2 linked regions of the Homo sapiens genome follow. The protein of the gene in region 1 interacts with the protein of each later gene in a pairwise test. Each region holds a gene or a part of one and is shown in the gene's direction. Other genes may lie near its edges.

Evidence for each region.
Region 2: the proteins of PPM1H (region 1) and RAB10 interact in binary tests that used the Homo sapiens proteins (3 or more experiments, as listed by UniProt).

Annotation. Positions count from the first base shown.
Region 1 is NC_000012.12:62,687,125-62,694,150, reverse strand, and holds part of PPM1H (protein phosphatase 1H), read left to right. Parts: intron 1-151; coding exon 152-215; intron 216-4,344; coding exon 4,345-4,452; intron 4,453-7,026. UniProt on the Homo sapiens protein: Dephosphorylates CDKN1B at 'Thr-187', thus removing a signal for proteasomal degradation.
Region 2 is NC_000002.12:26,121,075-26,128,100, forward strand, and holds part of RAB10 (ras-related protein Rab-10), read left to right. Parts: intron 1-6,069; coding exon 6,070-6,159; intron 6,160-6,775; coding exon 6,776-6,877; intron 6,878-7,026. UniProt on the Homo sapiens protein: The small GTPases Rab are key regulators of intracellular membrane trafficking, from the formation of transport vesicles to their fusion with membranes.

The DNA of each region.
Region 1 (7,026 bases):
TAGGGAGAACAACTCCCTATAAAGGAAGAGGTAGTCAGTGTGGTGAGTGGATGGGGTCTCAGGGAAAATGAAATCCCTAGCAGTCGGTGTCAGGGCAGCAGGTCACTAATTGAGTGCAAACCTTTTTTAAAATGTTGTTTATCCCCTACAGGGCATACAAAACCATTGAGGATGAGGACTTGAAGTTCCCCCTTATATATGGAGAAGGCAAGAAGGTAGGCACGTGTGCTTCCCCTGGGTAGAGAGGACAGGGCTCTGTCCCGCCTTCGCTCCACATAGCCCGTGGCAGTCCGTGTGTTCCACTCAGCAGCTTGTGATTTTATAGCCTTGACAGCTTGAAAGCATATCCCATCCATCATCCTTCAGGCCTCCTGTCTTCAGGGTCCAAGGAGTAGTGGGGGTGGGAGGTGGGCGGTGAGCACAAGGGACTCAAGCCAATTTTGTGAAAATAAAGTCCCCCTTCCCAATCCATTTGAATAACTTTTTACAGTGTTTAAACATGAACCACTTTCACACACATCATCTCATTTATATCTGACAACGAGCAAGGAGGCAGGTCAAGCTGGCTGTGTTATATCCATCTGGCAGACGAGGCAGCTGGGACTGTGAGGTTAAAACAGCTCAGGCAGATCACGCAGCCAAGCGAGGGGCAGCTGCGGATGTGGTGCCTTGGCTTTCTGTCTGCTTCGCGCGTCTCAGACTCCACCATGGAAGTCCAGACTTTGCAAGTCTGTTTGCCACTTGCCCCATGGAAGAGAGTCCAAAGCGTCACTGTAATTAGACTATAAGGTCACAGCAACCAGAGTCCAGACTAAGATAACAAAGACCATCATCAGCTCCCAGGGTTCCAGTCAGAATCCAGCACTGAACAGCACGTTGTCGAACCAAAGAAAAGCTGTGGATCCTAAAGTGGTCTCTGAGCAGAGGCCTGGAGGAGGTTGAAATCCTGGAGTGGAGAGCAAGAAGCTTGGAATCTATTTCCTAGTAAGAACAAACACCTTCTGAATCATTGCATTCTTCCTCGGAACACTAATACATTTCAACTCGGTGTGAAGCATTCCAAGTGAAAAATGTGGTCACATTGAGAAGAGTCTTCAACTGATAATTTTTCCAGCATTCGATACGATAGTTTTTATCAAGAAGAAATGACTCAGAAGAAAACCAAAGGATGCCTTCCATGGGCAGAGTGTGTGTGTGTGTGTGTGTGTGTGTGTGTGTCAGAGCAAAAGCAAGAGAACAAACATGGTTAGGTTTTGGGCTCCGTGTAGACCAGCAGTGATTTCAATGCAAAAAGACATCTCAACAGAAGGAGGAATACCAAACACAAATATCTGATCCATGTAGGAATCATTTTTTAAACGAACATACCCCATTCATGAAAATGAACACCTTTCAGATCACAGTCTCTGGTTAAGAATCGTGTCAGGGCTAATAGGCACTGTTCTGATATAAATATTTGTGCCTTTTGGTACAATGGGCACCATTAATGAGTATCATTCAGCCCAATGACCTATGCCTGCAGCTCCATTTCTTTGTGGGGCTGAGATTCTCTGTATTACCCTTTAATATCCAGTGAGTTCCAGTAAACTCAGGAACACATTCTGTTACCCCTGTATCTCTAGTTCCTGTCTAGCCTGGTACCTGACATAAATGCATAAGTATTAAATAAGCTGTTCAGTTATGTTCAGTATACTTTCCTTAGTACAATAGGAAAATGGAATGATGTATTCTTGGAAGTTTATAGCAGTAAGATTTGAAGGAGCAAGAGTTTTCTAATTTTAGTATAAAGTTCAATTCACCAAAACATCATGTTCCTCAAGCATTTCAGGTAATTTAAGCTTGATGGTCTTGCGATGGGCAGGTGGCAAGTTCTGTCCGTGTACCTGTTGGCCTATTTAAAAGCCACCATGTCTCCATTTTGCTTTTGTTGGTAGATACCACCCCTTTCTGAGGACTCCATGAGTTCTTGGAGCTCCTTCTAGATCCTGGACTGGGATTTTCTCTTTCTTCTCCGCGTACCCCTACGCAGAAATTTCAGAGTACTTCTGTGGCCATTACTTCTCATTTTCTTTCTTCAGATGCTTTTAAAGACTGGTGTGGGTAACACCTGGATACTTCGTAAACAAGGTCAGTCACTAGCAGAAACATCAGATTTCTTTGGCTGGAAAGAGCACACAGAGAAGCCGCCATTTCAGGGAGGAGAGCAGGAGAGCCACAAGGGACTCAGAATTTTTCACATTTAGAGTTGAGCACTTCTTGGCTAGAAGGGAGCCAGTCCAGCCTCCCAGCAGGGCAGAGGGCCCCAGGCTTTGCTTTGCATCACTTTTTTTTTTTTTTTTTGAGACATGGCATCAGGCTGGAGTACGGTGGCACAATCTCGGCTCACTTCAGGCTCGACATCCCAGGATCAGGTGATCCTCCCACTTCAGCCTCCTGAGTAGCTGGGACTACAGGCGCATGCCACCACACTGGCTAATTTTTGTATTTTTTGTAGTCAGGAGGTTTTACCACATTGCCCTGGCTAGTCTCAAACTCCTGGGCTCAAGTGATCCTCCTGCCTTGGCCTCCCAAAGTGCTGGGATTACACATGTGAGCTACTGTGTCTGGCTGTGTCTCGTGTCTTTATCCCCTCTGACCCTTGCCCTCAAAAAGGTGTCATGGTTTCATTTCTGCTTAATGTGAACTCTGCCTACCTTCCGAACCAAGGCTGGCTTCAAAATTCACAGCCCTGTTGACAGTCTAGGATGAAGATGAAGACAATATATTAAATTGCAGTGTTTCTTAGCATTTATTTACTTCATCCCCACTCATAGGAGGTAATTACTCTTATCACCCAGGTAATAGAGTGAGGATTCAAGCTCAGGTCTTTGAACCATTTCACTACACCGGATATATTTTTTATGATTAAGGGTTAGGACACTGCTTTCTTCCACCCAGGATGACTTTCACTCCATCCCTCTGTGTCGCCTGTCTTGATGCAATCCACCTTTCTGTGCTAAGTGCCACCTCCTCCGTGGAGCCTTCTCAGTAGAATTTTTACCTCCTCTAAACTTGCATAACCCATTGTCTATGTGTTTTTCAGTACTTAACCATATTTTATGTGTTATTAATTACACATCTCCCTCTTATCTCCCTTACCAAGTTTCTTTTTGGTTTTTTTATTTGTTTGTTTGTTGGTTTGAGACTGAGTCTCACTGTGTCACCCAGGCTAGACTGCAGTGGCATGATCTCAATTCACTGCAACCTCCACCTTCCAGGTTCAAGTGATTCTCATGCCTCAGCCTCCAAGCAGCTGGGATTACAGGTGCCCACCACCATGCCTAGCTAAATTTTGTATTTTTCGTAGAGATGGGGTTTCACCATGTCAGCCAGGCTGGTCTCAAACTCCTGACCTCAAGTGATCCACCTGCCTCAGCCTCCCAAAGTGCTGGGATTACAGGCAAGAGCCACCGCACGTGGCCCCAAGTTTCTTTGTAGTAGGGACGAGGCCTTAGACATTTGTGTCCCCAACATATGATGTAAGTACATAGTAGGCACCCAATAAATGTTTGGGTAAATCAGATCTTCAGCATAACAGGAGATATTTAAGCTGACTGTGTAGGCATTGGTGTAATAGTGTTACTTCCTTACACCATTCAAAAACAGTTCAGGATGAGGTCTCAGCCCTGAGGCCTCTGTGTAGCTATGTCACAGCACTGGTGACATTTTGTTCCTTTCCACCCAGAGGGAATTTGTGGAGATCTTAGCAGGATAGGTTATAGAGTTGATAAGTTTCTTTTCTCCAGCCATAAAACATAATAGGTGAACTCTGGGAGGGCAAGAGCTATTTCTGATTTTTTACACCTTTTACTAGTACATATCACAGGACTAAGGACATAGCTGGTGTTGAGCAAATACTTGTACAGTGGATATGTAACAGAAAGATTGGTGGGTGTGTGGATGGGTGGGTGGATGGATGGATGGATGGATGGATGGATCGATCAATCCTATTGGGTTTGATATGAACTGATTTCTGCAGCTGTAGACGTCACGCATGCATTGGAGTTAGTTTATTGGACATCCTTCCTTCCAGTCTCCAAAAAAAGAAAGCTGAAAAGAAACAGCAGCAACCTGTCAAGCTTAAGATAATGGATAGAAAAAGCACTCCTCAAATACAGAAGTGATTTTGGTGAGCCCTTTCTTGGTAAGAGCTATCCACGTATGTTAGCAGCAAGGGGCCTGGAAACATATCTGGGCAGGAGGAACTGGAAAATTGTTTGGTTGTTCCTAGCCCAGGCAGCTGCACTGGAATGGGATGCTTTCACTGTGTGCGTGTTTCTGATGACCCTCTGCTTATACTCCTAGGCCCGGGTAATGGCAACTATTGGAGTGACCAGGGGACTTGGGGACCATGACCTGAAGGTGCATGACTCCAACATCTACATTAAACCATTCCTGTCTTCAGCTCCAGAGGTACCGCATGAGGTTTTTGTTTATATTTTGTGCAATAAAACATTTTCGGCGTTATTCCTCCTGTGACTCACACCCCATATCCAGACAGTAGCCAACTTGTATTATATGTACTTCCACTGTATCTCTCACGTCTGTGTCTTTTTCCCACTCCATTCTCACTTTGACTCTTCTGGTTCACACCTTCATCACCTCTTACCCAGATGGCTGCACAGCCTCCTCCTGACATTTTCTAAGTCTGCCAATCCATGCTACTTATTGCAGTCAGGTAAATTTTCCTTAAAAACTGACTCCTAATTGCTCAGAAACCTTCAATGGCAGCCCAGGCATGGAGAGTAAAGCTCAGACTCCCATTCACTTGGTGTTCAAGGCTTATTATAATTTGGTCTGGACTTCTCTGATCTTTGTTCTCCTGCACCAGCCAGAATGAACTTGCTGTTTCCCTTACATGACCTTAGGTTTCCCATATTTGCTTAAACTATTCCTTTTGCCAAGAATGCCCTTTCTCCCCAACTCCAAACATCCAAATTCTTTTTTTCTCTGGAGTTTAGCTTAGATGCTTTTTTATGGAGAGTTCCCTGATTTCTTCCTTGCCCAACCAGAAGTAATGTCTCTCCCTACTTGGGATATACATAGAGCACCTTCCACGTACAGTGTTTTCACTGTCTGCCTTCGGTCACAGTTGTTTTGTTTTGTTTTGTATTTTGAGACAAAGTCTCGCTCTGTCGCCCAGGCTGGAGTGTAGTGGCATGATATCGGCTAACTGCAACTTCTGTCTCCTGGGCTCAAGTGATTCTCCTGTCTCAGCCTCCCGAGTAGCTGGGACTACAGGCACACACCACCATACCCAGCTAATTTTTGTATTTTTAGTAGAGACAGGGTTTCTCTATGTTGGTTAGGCTGGTGTTGAACTCCTGACCTCAAGTGATCCACCCGTCTCAGCCTCCCTAAGTGCTGAGATTATAGGCGTGAGCTACCACACCTGGCCTGATCATAGTTATTTATGTATACCTTATCCCCTCGTTAGACTAATTACCTGAAGAGCTTCTGTCATTCAGCTGATGTTTAGAGAAGTTAATTTACAAACAAGTTGGTCATATATTTGGTTTAAAAAAAATCATGTGTCTTACCATATAGGAAACAGTATCGATTTCTATGTTGACTTTCTGGATATATCATTTAGAAATTTTTTTGCTTCCAAATTTGGAAAAGTCTAACCGATAGTATTAGGTTGGTGCAAAAGTAATTACAGTTTTTGCCATTTTTTTTTTTTAATTACTTTTGCAACAGCCTAAGAGTTTAAAGGTAAATTTTTCTCACCCAGTAAGAAGGCTGAAATCTGGTGGCTGCTGGCGTTGGTTCAGCACCTCCATTGTGTCAGGGCTGTAGCGTCTCTGCATTTCTTTGACTTTCCCTTCATGGTTACAAGGTGGTGGCAGTAGGTCCAAGCCTGACATTTCTATGCAAAGATGGAAAGGAGGGGCAGCCTCTGTCCCAACAGATATTCACTTGCCTCTCATTGGCCAGAACTGTGTTACATGACCTTCTAGCTGCAAGGGAGTTTGGGAGAGCAAGAGTTTTAACTCTCCCAATTTCGATAGTAGAAGGAAATCAGGAAGGCATAAGTCAGGAACCAATAGCATTTACTACAATGTGTAATTAAGGTTTTTTGTTTCTTTTTTTTTTTTTTTTTGAGATGGAGTCTCACTCTGTTGCCCAGGCTGGAGTGCAGTGGTGCAATGTTGGCTCACTGCACCCTCCACCTCCCAGATTCAAGTGATGCTCCTGCCTCAGCCTCCCAAGTAGCTGGGATTACAGGTGGGCACCACCATGCCTGGCTAATTTTTGTATTTTTAGTGGAGACAGGGTTTCACCATGTTGGCCAGGCTGGTGTTGAATTCCTGAGCTATAGTGATCCACCTGCCTCGGCCTCCCAAAGTGCTGGGATTGCAGGCATCAGCCACTGCGGCTTGCCTGTAATTAAGCATTAAAATAATTCCTTGGACTGGAAATGCTCAGAACATTTAGACATAACTCTATTTGCATGTACTTCCCAAGAGCAGGTGCTGTTTTAACAAAGACTATTTTGGTCAGAGGAAACAGAAACTTACTAGAGCTAACTCAAAAAAAAAAAAAAAAGTACTGCAAGAAGGCCGGCTATGGTGGCTCATACCTGTAATCCCAGCACTTTGGGCGGCTAAGGCAGGAGGATTGCTTGAGACCAGCATGGGCAACATAGCAGGACCCTTGTTCTTACAAAAAGTAAAAAATTAGTTTGATGTGGTGGCACATGCCTGCCCCAGCTACTCAGAAGGCTGAGGTGAGAGGATTGCTTGAGCCCAGGAGCTCGAAGTTGCAGTGAGCCATGATTGTGCCATGACACTCCAGCCTGGGTGGCAGAGTGAGACGCTGACTCAAAAAAACAATAGTAATAATATTAGAAGAGATATTTATGGTGTCCATGAGCAGAATGATTGAACAGCCAGGCTTTATGGGAAAGTGGTTTTGAAATCAAGGCAGCCCTGCAAAGCCTCCACAGCGGAAAGCTCTCAGCCCTCACATGGAGTTCTGCCACTG
Region 2 (7,026 bases), on another chromosome or scaffold:
CTAATTTTAGTAATTTTAGTAGAGACAGGGTTTTGCCATATTGGCCAGGCTGGTCTCGAACCCCTGACCTCATGTGATCCACCCACCTCAGCCTCCCAAAGTGCTGGCTTTACAGGCGTGAGCCACCACATGCGGTATAATTTTTCTTTGTTAAGCTTGTGATTCTACTAAGGGTATCGTCCTTGCAACAAAAGAGTTGTTTCCTCCCTAATCCCACCTTTGTCTACCCCCTTTTAAACTGTCATTGACCCTTGAACTGCAGGTTCACTTACACATGGATATTTTTGTTTAAAGAGATGGGGACTCGCAGTGTTGCCCAGGCTGGTCTCAAACTCCAGGGGTCAAGTGATTCTTCCTTCTCAGCCTCCCAAGAAGCTGGGATTACAGGTGTGTGCCACCACACCCAGCTCTATAAACAGGTTTTTAAAAACAAATCTTTTGGAAAAAATGTTAGAGACTTGCAACAACTTGAAAAACTCACAGACAAGCCACATAACCTAGAAATATTGGGCGGGGGGGAAATTAAGAAAAAGTTAAGTATATTATGAATGTCTAAAGTATATGTAGATACTAGTCTATTTTATTACTACCATAAAACATACACAGATCTATTATTAAAAGTTTAAATTTATTAACACTCAAACACACAGAGCCCATACAAGGCACCTTTTGCATCAAGAGAAATGTAACAGAGATGCAGTATTAAATCATAATTGCATAAAAATAACTAATACATACTGTACTACTGTGATAATTTTGTAGCCACCTCCTGTTGCTATTTTGGTGAGCTCGTATGTTTCCAAGTGTCTGCTTAAAACACCATGTGATGTGGATCATCTCCCCGTGAACAGTTTGTGTCTCCAGTAAATCCCATATTGCAATCAAAAGAGGTCTTTTGTGGTTCTTGCGTGTTTTCATCGTGTCTAGTGCAATACCATAAACCTTGAATAACACCATCAGACCTATACAAAGTGCCACTAGTGATGCCAGAAGCAATCCTGAGAAACAGAAAAGTCATGACATTACAAGAAAAAATTGAATTGCTTAATATGTACTGTAGAATGAGGTCTGCAGCTGTGGTTGCCCGTTATTTCAAGATAAATTAATCCAGCATAAGGACCATTTTAAATAAAAGAAAATTTGTGAAGCCATCACTGCAGCCACAGCAGGAGGTGTGAAACCTTGCACTTTTTACAGAATACCTTTTTATCTCATGTTGAAAATGCAGCTCTTATGTGGGTACAGGATTGCTATAAGAAAGGCATACTTGTAGGCTGGGCGCGGTGGCTCACGCCTGTAATCCCAGCACTTTGGGAGGCCAAGGCGGGCAGATCACGAGGTCAGGAGATCGAGACCATCCTGGCTAACACGTTGAAACCCCGTCTCTACTGAAAATACAAAAAATTAGCCAGGCGTGGTGGCGGGCGCCTGTAGTCCCAGCCACTCGGGAGGCTGAGGCAGGAGAATGGTGTGAACCCGGGAGGCAGAGCTTGCAGTGAGCTGAGATCACACCACTGCACTCCAGCCTGGGCGACAGAGCGACTCTGTCTCAAAAAAAAAAACAAAAAAAAAGGGCATACTTGTAGACTATGATATTCAAGAAAAAGTGAAGTTATTATATGACAACTTAAAGCAAAACGGAAGAGAAGCTAGAGGAGTTAATGCCAGCAAAGAATGGTTTGATAATTTTAGAAAGAGGCTTGGCCTAAAAATGGCAGGCTAACAGGAGAAGCAGCTTCTGCTGACTAAGACACAGCAGACAAGTTCCTGGGCACCGCTGAACAAGTCTTTAATGCAGTTAAAAGTGTCCTATTCTCGGGGTGGCAGGGAGGGGGGCAGGCCACAAAGGACATGAGTGTTAGGAAAAGAAGAAAGCACAGGGAATTAAGGCAGGAAGGGATAGGCTAACTACTGTTCTGTGCAAATGCAATTGGGTTTATGATCAGGACTGACTGCCCTTACGTATAAAGTTGCTAACCCCCAAGACCTGAAGGGAAAAGTCTTTTGAAGCTGCCAGTTTTTTGATCATTCAACAAGAAGACCTGAACACTGAGAATCCTTTTTCTGGATTGGTTCCATCAATACTTTGTCCCTGAAATCAGGAAATACCTTGCCATTATGGGACAGCCCTTTAAAGTTCTTTTGATGTTGGACAGTGCCCCTGGCCACCCAGAACCCCATGAGTTTAACACCGAAAACATTGAAGTGGTCTACTTGCCCCCGAACACAGTCTCTAATTCAGCATCTAGATCAGGGGATCATGAGGACCTTTAAGGTTAATAACACACGGTACTCTAACCTCAATAGAACATCATGAAAATCTGGAGGAATTACACCGCTGAAGATGCCATCGTTATAGAAAAAGCCATGAAAGCCATCAAGCACAAAACAGTAACTTCCTGCTGGAGAAAACTGTGTACCGATGTTGAGCATGATTTCACAGGATTTGTAGCAGAGCCAGTCAAGGAATTTATGAAAGAGACTGTGGATAAGACAAGAGCTAATAGACATCAACCAGAGGAATCAACAGAAGATGATTTAATGAAGATGCCGGTGCTTCCAAACCAGCGTTGGACGATAAGGAAGAAGGCAAAGAAGTAGTGCCAGAAAACAAATTGACTGTAGACAATCTGGCAGAAGGGTTCTGATTATTCAAGACTGCTTTAGACTTACTGTACAACATGGACCATTGTGTGATACAGGCACTGAAACTGAAGCAAATGATGAAAGAAGGATTGGTTTTGTATAGAAATATTTTTAAAGAAATGAAAAAGCAAAAAAGAAATTACAATGTTTTTCCGTAAAGTTAAACTGAGTGTGCCTGCCTCCCCTTCCACCTTCTCTACCTCTTCTGCCTCTGCCTTCCCTGAGACAGCAAGACCAACCCCCTCCTCTTTCTCCTCCTCAGCCTACTCAATTTGAAGACATTGAGGATGAAGACCTTTATGATGATCCACTTCCACTTAATGAATAGTAAATATATTTTTCTTCCTTATGATTTTCTTAATAACATTTTCTTTTCTCTAACTTTATGGTAAGAATACAGTATAGAATACATATATAAAATATGTTAATCGACTGTTACTGATAATACTTCTGGTTAGCATCAGGCTGTTACTAATTAAGTGTTTGGGGAGTAAAAGTTATACATGGTATACCCTTACCCCCATTGTTCAAGGGTCAACTGTATGTTGTTTTAAATCAGCATATTTTATAACTTTCCTAGTTTTTTTTTTTCTTATAGCTACAGGAAATGAAGTAACCGCAGCCATTTGGCAGTTTTGTTGCTGTTGTTTTTCTTATTGTTGTTGTTGCTTTTTTTTTTTTTTTTTTTTTTTTTTTTGAGACAGGTTCTTGCTTTGTTGCCCTGGCTGGAGTGCAGTGGCAGTGATAATAGTTCACTCCAGCCTTGAGCTCTTGGGCTCAAGTGCTCCTCCTGCCTCAGCTTCTTAAAGTGTTGGGATTACAGGCATGAGCCCCCGTGCTCAGCCTATTGTTGTTTTTGAATACTTTTTAAAATTGTGGTGAAATACATACAACATGAAATTTTCATTTTAACTATTATTTTGGTGTATAGTTCAGTGGTGTTAAGTACATTCTACTGTTGTGCAACCGTCACCACCATCCATTTCCAGAACTTTTTCATCTTTCTGAACTCAAGCTTTGCATCCATTAAACAATGATTTCTGTCTCCCCCTTTCCCCATCTCCTGGCAACTGTCACCATTCTATTTTCTATGAATTTGACTGTTATAGGTACCTCATATAAGTGGAATCATATAGTATTTGTTCAATTTGTAAGTAATTTACTTCATTTAACATAAAGTTTTCAAGGTTCATCTACATTGTAGCATGTGTCAGAACTTGTTTATTTTTTGAGGCTGAATAATATTCCATTGTTTTTATATGCCATGTTCTGTTTATTCATTCACCCATTGTTGGATATGTGGGTTGTTTTCACCCTTTTACTATTGTGAATAATGTTGCTGTGAACACTGGTGTACAAATATCTGAGTCCCTGCTTTAAATTCTTCTGCGTGTATACCCATGAGTGGAATTGCTGGATCATATGATAATTCTGTGTGTAACCTTTTGAGGAATCACCAGACTTTTCCACAGTGATTGCACCATTTTACATTCCTACCAACAGTACACAAAGGTGTCGGTTTCTCCACATCCTCGCCAATATGTGTTTTCTGTTTTTTTAATAGTAGCCATACTAATGGGTATGTAGTGGTATCTCTCATTGTGGTTTTTGATTTGCATTTCCTAATCTTAGTGATATTGAGCATCTATTCATGTGCATATTGTTTGTTTGTATATCTTCTTTGAAGAAATGTCTATTCAAATCCTTTGCTTGCTTTTTTTTTTTTTTTTTTTTAAATTTTTTCCAGACAGGTTCTTGCTCTGTTCCCCAGGCTGGAGTACAGAGGCATGATGATCATGGCTCACTGCAGCCTCAACTTCCCAGGCTCAAGTGATTCTCCTACCACAGCCTCCTAAGTAGCTGGGACTACAGGCACACACCACCGTGCCTGGCTAATTTTTAAATTTTTTGTAGAGATGAGGTCTCACAGTGTTACTCAGGCTAGTCTCGAACTCCTGGGCTCAGGCAATTTTCCTGACAGCCTCCCAAAGTGCTGTCATTTTTTGTTGTTGTTAGGAGTTTTAGGTGTTTTTTATATATTCTAGGTATTATTCCCTTTCAAATACATGATTTACAAATATTTCCTCCTTTTTGTGGGTAGTCTTTTCATTCTCTTGATAGCGTCCTTTGTTGCACAGTAGTTTTTAACTTTGATGAAGTACAGTTTAACTACTTTTTCTTTTATTGCCTGTGCTTTTGGTATCATGTCAAAGAAACCATTGCCAAATCCAGTGTCCTGAAGCTTTTCCCTATGTTTTCTTCTAAGAGTTTTATAGTTTGAGGTCTTTGATCTAGTTCAAGTTAATTTTTTTATATGGTTTAAAATAAGGATCCAGCTTCATTGTTTTGCATGTGGATATCTGGTTTTCCTAGTGCTATTTATTGAAAAGACTGTCCTTTCCCTATTGACTGATTTTGGCATCCTTGTCGAGGGTCATTTGACTAAGTATGTGAGGATTTATTTCTGGGCTCTCTATTCCATTCCATTAGTCTGTGTATCTGTCTTTATGCCAGTTCCACACTTTTTGATTTGCAGTAAGTTCTGAAATTTGACTCCCCCAGCTAATATTATTTTGGCTGGGCTCAGTGGCTCATGCCTGTAATCCTAGCTCTTTGGGAGGCCGATGGGGGTGGATCACTTGAGGCCAGGAGTTCGCGATCAGCCTGGCCAACATGGCAAAACCCCCCATCTCTACCAGAAAACTACAAAAATTAGCTGGCATGGTAGTACACACACCTGTAGTCCCAGCTACTCACAGCTACTCAAGAGGCTAAGGCAGGAGAATCGCTTGAACTCGGGAGGCGAAAGTTGCAGGAAGCCCAGATCACACCACTGCACTCCAGCCTGGGCAACAGAGCAAGGCTCTGTCTCAAAAAGAGAGATTCTTTTGATGTTAGATTCCATATGAATTTTTGGATAGATCTTTCTATTTCTGCAAAAATTGTCATTGGGATCTTAAGGGGACAACCACTTGTTTTTAACTGATTTTTCTGCATGGACCTCCTTGTGCCATAGCAGCACAGCTATTTGAGAGTTTAAGGCTCTATAAAATGTTTAATTAAGGCTTCTATAGGGTAGTATGCATTATAAAATCTGAAATGATCCAGCCTGGATTTAGATTATGCAAGTTTCTTTGCTTGTATCTTCTCTTTTGGTAAGAAAGAACATACCTAGAAAGTAGACAGCCTCCTTTAGGGAGGAAATAGTATTTGACATGGATATGTCTTGGGAATTGCGTTTCTTTTGCTAGGTAATCTAAGAATTTGTGTAGGCTTTTAGTATGGAGTAGTTTTAGGGTGACTGCTTTAAAACTTCAAAGCTATAGAAATGACCCTCTAAATTGAGAGAATAAAGTCACTTTTAAAGACTGTTAAGCCGTAATTCATGGTAGTATGTAAAAGTAAAATTTTATTTCATTTTAGCATGCCAATGAAGATGTGGAAAGAATGTTACTAGGAAACAAGTGTGATATGGACGACAAAAGAGTTGTACCTAAAGGAAAAGGAGAACAGGTAAAAATCTGAATTAAACTGATACTCTGCTCTGTCTTTGTAAAGGTAATGCTACTTTTGATTATTTTTATAGTAATAGTGATCGAACACACTAAGCTAATTACATAGTTTTTAAAATGCTTGTTGGAAATAATATTTTATCATTTGAGTGAATTTTTTTTCAGTGCATATTTAACATGTATGGGAGAATCAAATGTGCCCATAGTATTTTTAGCCTTATTTAAACTACAAAGAGAGAAAAATATAAGTCATTAATCCTCGGTTTTTAAACTTAGGACTTTAAGGAAATGTATCAATTAGTATGGTTCTAAAATGTGACAATCAGGAGCCTATGGTGAGCAGAAATTAGACCCTGAGGAGTCAGGTTGAGCTTCTCATAAGTTTGCCCCCAGTGTGAAGTATCTGACTTAGAATATCTGAAATAAACTTTTGGGGTAAGGAGATTACTTTTCTTTTGTTTGTTTTATGAAAGAGCTTGACTTGCTGAAATATTCTGTGTTATATATTCTAGTTGGGACCACTGCCTTCAGAATAAGATTAATATTTAAGCTGTTAAAGTCAGCAGTTGGCAACCCATGCTTGATAATTTTATGATGATATTTTGTTTCTGTTTTAGATTGCAAGGGAGCATGGTATTAGGTTTTTTGAGACTAGTGCAAAAGCAAATATAAACATCGAAAAGGCGTTCCTCACGTTAGCTGAAGATATCCTTCGAAAGGTAAGTTCCTGTTTTTATATCCTGCCAGGTACCTGAGTATCTCTGTTGAATATTTTGTCTATTCTGAAGTACTGGATTTACATACAGAATTTGAGTTTGGGTGGTATTGTTTCTGTAGGGCAGCAGTCCCCAGCCTTTTTGGCACCAAG